Linked DNA regions of Homo sapiens. The protein of the gene in region 1 purifies or fractionates together with the protein of each later gene. This does not show direct contact. Each region holds a gene or a part of one and is shown in the gene's direction. Other genes may lie near its edges.

Region 1 (3,650 bases):
AAAAAGGGACAGATATTTAAGTTCTATTTATTTATAAAATCTTGGACTCTTATTCTAATGGTTCATTATTTTTATAGAGCTGTAGGCATGGTTCTTTATTTAATTTTTTAAAGTTATTTTTAATTTTTGTGGATACAGAGTAGGTATACATATTTACGGGGTATATGAGATATTTTGATATAAGTATACAACATATATAATCCCTTTATTTAATTTTATCTTCCCCCCAATGATCTAAAACTATTTGCTTGTCCTTTTATGTCTTATAGTTAAATTCAGTCACCAACTAAGTTGAAGTTACTTCTTATTTTTGCATAGCTCCAGCTCTGATCTTCATCTCATGTTTTTGCCTGAGCCTCTGTTTTCATATTACTTAGTTGGTTCTGGGAGCATACTTTAATAGCCGAGTCAAGAAAAATACTAGCTGCCCCGTCACCCACACTCCTCACCTGCTAGTCAACAGCAAATCAACACAACAGGAAATAAAATGAAAATAATAGACATTATGCATGCTCTCTAGAAACTGTCAATTGAACTGTATTTGCTCATCATTCCTACCATCTACACCACCAAAATCAACCAAATTTATGAAAAAAAACAGCCCCAACATAAAATTATACACAGATAAACAGGCTATGATTGGTTTTGGGAAAGAAGTCACCTTTACCTGATTTAGGCAACTGTGAAATGACTAGAGAATGAAGAAAATTAGACGTTTACATCTTGTCATAGAGTTTGAAGATAGTGCTGGATCTTTCTTTTTATAAGTAAGATCAATAAAAACTCCCTCATTCTGTAGAAGTTATGATTTCTTTTCTAAGAGACCTTTAGAAGTCAGAAAAAATGTGTTTCAATTGAGAAAAAAGATAACTGGAGTTTGTGTAGTACTTCCCAGATTATAAAATGCTTTTGTATGTATTATCTAATTTAATCCTCAAAACTTCTTCAATTTAGCATGTTGTCATGACACTGCAGAGGCTGAAGCTCAGAGAGGCTGAGCCCTCTGCTAACAAGTCCTACTGCTAACAAGTGATAAAGCCAGAGCTGGAAGTCACATCTGGACTCCAAACCTGATGCTTCTCAGCCTGTTGCCCCTTTTAGAGTTCCTTTTTAATTTCTGCTTTTATGACTTGCTAGATTTCTACCTACCACACACACTCTTAAATGGATAATTCTGCCCTAAGGATAAGTGATTACCATTTGGTTCAGAACTAGAACTAATGAATTTTAAAAATTATTTCTGTATGTCCATTTTGAATTTTCTTATGAGAAATAGTATTTGCCTAGTGTTTTCATATAAAATATCGCATGATAATACCATTTTGATTGGCGATTTTCTTTTTAGGGCAGTAGCTCGCCTGAGCCAGAGATTTCCCAAAGCTGAGTTTGCAGAAGTTTCCAAGTTAGTGACAGATCTTACCAAAGTCCACACGGAATGCTGCCATGGAGATCTGCTTGAATGTGCTGATGACAGGGTAAAGAGTCGTCGATATGCTTTTTGGTAGCTTGCATGCTCAAGTTGGTAGAATGGATGCGTTTGGTATCATTGGTGATAGCTGACAGTGGGTTGAGATTGTCTTCTGTGCTTTCGTCTGTCCTATCTTCAATCTTTCCCTGCCTATGGTGGTGGTACCTTTCTGTTTTTAACCTGGCTATAAATTACCAGATAAACCCATTCACTGATTTGTAACTCCTTTCAGTCATGCTCTAACTGTAAATGAAGGCTTAAACTGAAGTAGAACAGTTACAAGGTTTTACTTGGCAGAACATCTTGCAAGGTAGATGTCTAAGAAGATTTTTTTTTCTTTTTTTAAGACAGAGTTTCGCTCTTGTTTCCCAGGCTGGGGTGCAATGGTGTGATCTTGGCTCAGCGCAACCTCTGCCTCCTGGGTTCAAGTGATTCTCATGCCTCAGCCTCCCAAGTAGCTGGGATTACAGGCATGCGCCACCACACCTGGCTAATTTTGTATTTTTAGTAGAGGCGGGGTTTCACCATATTGTCCAGACTGGTCTCGAACTCCTGACCTCAGGTGATCCACCCGCCTTGGCCTCCCAAAGTGCTGGGATTACAGGCATGAGCCACCTTGCCCAGCCTAAGAAGATTTTTTGAGGGAGGTAGGTGGACTTGGAGAAGGTCACTACTTGAAGAGATTTTTGGAAATGATGTATTTTTCTTCTCTATATTCCTTCCCTTAATTAACTCTGTTTGTTAGATGTGCAAATATTTGGAATGATATCTCTTTTCTCAAAACTTATAATATTTTCTTTCTCCCTTTCTTCAAGATTAAACTTATGGGCAAATACTAGAATCCTAATCTCTCATGGCACTTTCTGGAAAATTTAAGGCGGTTATTTTATATATGTAAGCAGGGCCTATGACTATGATCTTGACTCATTTTTCAAAAATCTTCTATATTTTATTTAGTTATTTGGTTTCAAAAGGCCTGCACTTAATTTTGGGGGATTATTTGGAAAAACAGCATTGAGTTTTAATGAAAAAAACTTAAATGCCCTAACAGTAGAAACATAAAATTAATAAATAACTGAGCTGAGCACCTGCTACTGATTAGTCTATTTTAATTAAGTGGGAATGTTTTTGTAGTCCTATCTACATCTCCAGGTTTAGGAGCAAACAGAGTATGTTCATAGAAGGAATATGTGTATGGTCTTAGAATACAATGAATATGTTCTGCCAACTTAATAAAGGTCTGAGGAGAAAGTGTAGCAATGTCAATTCGTGTTGAACAATTTCCACCAACTTACTTATAGGCGGACCTTGCCAAGTATATCTGTGAAAATCAAGATTCGATCTCCAGTAAACTGAAGGAATGCTGTGAAAAACCTCTGTTGGAAAAATCCCACTGCATTGCCGAAGTGGAAAATGATGAGATGCCTGCTGACTTGCCTTCATTAGCTGCTGATTTTGTTGAAAGTAAGGATGTTTGCAAAAACTATGCTGAGGCAAAGGATGTCTTCCTGGGCATGTAAGTAGATAAGAAATTATTCTTTTATAGCTTTGGCATGACCTCACAACTTAGGAGGATAGCCTAGGCTTTTCTGTGGAGTTGCTACAATTTCCCTGCTGCCCAGAATGTTTCTTCATCCTTCCCTTTCCCAGGCTTTAACAATTTTTGAAATAGTTAATTAGTTGAATACATTGTCATAAAATAATACATGTTCATGGCAAAGCTCAACATTCCTTACTCCTTAGGGGTATTTCTGAAAATACGTCTAGAAACATTTTGTGTATATATAAATTATGTATACTTCAGTCATTCATTCCAAGTGTATTTCTTGAACATCTATAATATATGTGTGTGACTATGTATTGCCTGTCTATCTAACTAATCTAATCTAATCTAGTCTATCTATCTAATCTATGCAATGATAGCAAAGAAGTATAAAAAGAAATATAGAGTCTGACACCAGGTGCTTTATATTTGGTGAAAAGACCAGAAGTTCAGTATAATGGCAATATGGTAGGCAACTCAATTACAAAATAAATGTTTACATATTGTCAGAAGTTGTGGTGATAAACTGCATTTTTGTTGTTGGATTATGATAATGCACTAAATAATATTTCCTAAAATTATGTACCCTACAAGATTTCACTCATACAGAGAAGAAAGAGAATATTTTAAGAACATATC
Region 2 (3,650 bases), on another chromosome or scaffold:
GCCTCTGCTTCCTTGTTGGTCAAACAGGGTCCCTAACATCCCCCTCCCAGGCCTCGTGAGGATTAAAGCAGATCGTGCATTTGACAGACTCAGCATAGCAGCTGGTAGGAAAGAGGCCCTCAAGAAATTCTGCTTCTATCATGTTCATAGTAAACCCCCCAAAACGTCAGCTTTGTAACGTTGTGTTATTGGTATGAAGCATTGACCGAGAGGCCAGCTTAGGCGTGGTTTTATAACAAGGCGTGGTTTTGTAACAAGGTGGAAAAGGCTCCTTGGAGCTTCATGAGCTCTCTTTCCATCCTAACTGTTAAAGCAAAAGGTGATGGAGTTGATTATAGCCCTGCCCCCCAGCACATGCACGCGCACACACACAGGCGGGTACAGGAGAGGGTTCATGGCTCCGAGCAGCTCCATGCAGCTCAGGGGGTCTGCAGACACTGAGCTGTGGAACTCCAGGCACCCCCCCACCCCCGATTACTGAGCGCTCCGTCTCATTCCCAGCTGATAAATGAGAGCGTGGACGAAGCCGACATGGAGAATGCTGGACACCCCAGCGCAGACACGCCAACCGCAACGAACTATTTCCTCCAGTATATCAGTTCCAGGTGTGTGTCTCGGTGTCAGCGGCCAGCCTGGCATGGCGATGCAGGTGGCCGCGAGGGCTTCTGCCAGAGAGGGGTCTGTGGTCCCCGTGCCCGACTCAGGCCCAGAATCCAGGTTGCTCTCAGGCCCCTCTCTCTCATTCCCCACTCTGGGCACAACCTTGGGTGGGCCAGGGTGGTGGGCCTTGTCCTGGGATTCACTGGACGCCTGAGACAGGACCAGAGTTCTGTGGGGTTGTCCAGGGGCCCATGGAGGCTACAGCCCAGCCCTTGGAGTGTGCCCTCTGTCTTGTGGACCTCATGCCCAGAGCAGAACAGAGCAGGCCAGAGGCGACTCAGGCGCCCCCTTATTCTGGGTTTGGGCACCTGGGGCAAAGACCTCATCATGTCCTTGACTGACATGGCTGGGGGTAATGCTACCCACGGACCAGCTGCCCCTCCAGGTGTCTCAGAAGAAAGCGTGTCCCGACTGGGAGATGGGCGGGTAGAGCAGGTGGAAGGTGGCTTCCCTCATGCTGTGGGGCCCCTCCATCAGGGCGAGCTAAGGGTTAATGTTTTCAATGGCACAGGGAGGTGTGTGGCTTCCTGCCTCTGACACGCCACCCCGTGCACAGTGGCGGAGGCCCCTCCACTGTGCCCTCTGTGTCAGTGTGTGCTCCATGGGTACCCATACATTTGCCTGGCCACGTTCCCACGTGACGCCCCACACTCATTGCACATCTTCTCTTCAGTTTAGAGAACTCAACCAATAGTGCCGACGCCTCCAGCAACAAATTTGTATTTGGCCAGAACATGAGCGAGCGAGTTTTGGTGAGTGGCTGTGTTGGGAATGTTCTCAGGGACCAGAGGCTCTCGGCGCCAGCCACAGGTCAAGGGGACATGGAGAGCAGGGCTGCTGTGTCGTCCTATGTGAGATGGGGATGCCTTCAGTAGCAAGTGAGAGAGGGAAGACCCTGCTCAGACTCAGCCTGAAAACTGGCCAGGGCCACTGGCTGCCTACGAACTGGCATTCGCTTTTCCCGGCTCCTCCGTGCTGACCAGGGCCAACTTCATCCCAAGATGGGCTTCCCTGGAGGCTGCAGGGTCCTGCTGGCAGTCGGGGTCCATGGTTCCTCCCCACCAGGCCAACTGACAAAAGTCCTGTGGGACGGAGCCAGCCGTGCTGGTGGACAGGGTTGCTGGCCTCCCTGCTCCTGTGAGCATAACCGCGGCCAAGGCCTTGGGTGCACGAAAGGCCCATCTCCGTTCCCAGGAGCCCAGCCAGCCTGGGAGAGGGTTCTAGAATGGTTTGCCTACCTCTTTACACATGTTCCTTTTTCTTCCTGATTCCACCCAGCTCCATTGCGACTGCGTGAGGGCCTGTCCTGAGCCGCCTGGTCACTCTAGCTCTGTCTGGAGTTAGGCTGCATTAAGTACTCTGCAGCTTCTCTTCCTTCGTGGCCACGCTGTGCTTTTTCTATTTCAATGAAATGTTCAAAGTCTTGCCTCACCCAGACGGAGTGACCAGTGTGGCTCGAGGGGACTGTCGGCTGGTGGCACTCACCCCGTAGTGATGCCTGAGGGACCACGTGGGGAGCTCCCAGGCAGTTCAGGGTGTCACCGGGAGTGGGCAGGAGTGCTGGGGGCAGCGTAGTGTTGGGGGCCAGGCAGAGAGGTGCTCAGAGCTGCTGCTGAAGGACCACACAAGTGCCCTCTTCCTTGTATGCTTTTGTGTCCCTGCAGAGCCCCCCAAAATTAAACGAGGTCAGTTCAGATGCCAACAGGGAAAATGCAGCTGCCGAGTCAGGGTCTGAGTCCTCGTCCCAGGAGGCCACCCCTGAGAAAGGTATGTTAGCGTCCCACCACAGCATGGGGCTCATGGTAGGTCATCTTGGGGGATGCTGGGTCCATTCACACCCCCAGCCGGGAGGGATAAGGGGCCCGACTCCCGCAGCAGTAACAACCACATGTGAACCAGCTCCAGGGCCCTGCCTTGCAGTGAGCAAGGGTTTGTGATAAAGAACTCGAGGGCCTGTGTCGCCTTGTGGCCGTGGGGAGGGTGGGGAGGCGCAGGCAGCAGGCGTGGAGGAGTCCCTCACTGTCCCCCCGTCGACTGCTCGGCACGAACACGAGAGTCTGGGGCCACACTTGGCCCCCAGATGGTCTCCCTGCAGCTTCTGAGGCCATATGCTCTGGCTGTGTCTAGGGTCCACTTGGGTTGCCGGGGCAGGCCTGCCAGGGGCAGCAGGCGTCCTTGAGACCAGAACCAACCCTCTCATCTCCTGTCGGATGAGGGGAGATGGCTCTCCTCTCGCCAAATAATCAGTCAGTCTTTTTGGCCAATAACTTTTCAGAGTCCCTGGCTGAGTCGGCAGCCGCCTACACCAAGGCAACAGCGCGGAAGTGTTTGTTGGAAAAAGTGGAAGTCATCACCGGGGAGGAGGCGGAGAGCAATGTGTTACAGGTGAGGGGCCGGCCCCTCCTCGGTGGCCCTGGGTCTTCCATGCACCTGGGGGTCCAACCGCAAGGGCTGGGCCCACATCCTCTGAGCACACAGGCCTGCCCCTGAGATGACGGAGGGGCCACTGGCCCCACGCTCTGGGACTTTGTTGGTGGCGTTTGTAGAGAGAGCTTAGGCTCAGGGGCTTCTTGCATGTCTTTGGTTTCAGAGGAGGAGGATCTGTTTGAGACATTCTTTGTTTTGTTTTAATTTTTTTTGAGACAATGTCTTACTCTGTCACCCAGGCTGGAGTACAGTGGCACAGTCTCGGCTCACTGCAACCTCTGCTTCCTGGGTTCAAGGGATTCTTGTGCCTCAGTCGCCTGAGTAGCTGGGATTACAGGTGTGCACCACCACGCCAGGCTAATTTTTGTATTTTTAGTAGAGACGGGGTTTCCCCATGTTGGCCAGGCTGGTCTCAAACTCCTGACCTCATGTGATCCACCCGCCTCGGCCTCCCAAAGTGCTGGGATGACAGGCGTGAGCCACCACGCCCAGCCCGAGACATTTTTGATGGTTCAGGGAATGACAAAGACTGTCATACCAAACATATTCTCTTGTCGCCCAGA

Evidence for each region. Proteins that work in one complex are often made in the same cells at the same time.
Region 2: the proteins of ALB (region 1) and RANBP3 purify together in Homo sapiens (affinity purification with mass spectrometry; one large-scale study listed by BioGRID and IntAct). This does not show direct contact.

What each region holds. Positions count from the first base shown.
Region 1 is NC_000004.12:73,410,651-73,414,300, forward strand, and holds part of ALB (albumin preproprotein), read left to right. Parts: intron 1-1,345; coding exon 1,346-1,475; intron 1,476-2,769; coding exon 2,770-2,984; intron 2,985-3,650. UniProt on the Homo sapiens protein: Binds water, Ca(2+), Na(+), K(+), fatty acids, hormones, bilirubin and drugs. Its main function is the regulation of the colloidal osmotic pressure of blood. Major zinc transporter in plasma, typically binds about 80% of all plasma zinc.
Region 2 is NC_000019.10:5,922,589-5,926,238, reverse strand, and holds part of RANBP3 (ran-binding protein 3), read left to right. Parts: intron 1-501; coding exon 502-605; intron 606-1,333; coding exon 1,334-1,412; intron 1,413-2,324; coding exon 2,325-2,427; intron 2,428-2,935; coding exon 2,936-3,045; intron 3,046-3,650. UniProt on the Homo sapiens protein: Acts as a cofactor for XPO1/CRM1-mediated nuclear export, perhaps as export complex scaffolding protein. Bound to XPO1/CRM1, stabilizes the XPO1/CRM1-cargo interaction. In the absence of Ran-bound GTP prevents binding of XPO1/CRM1 to the nuclear pore complex.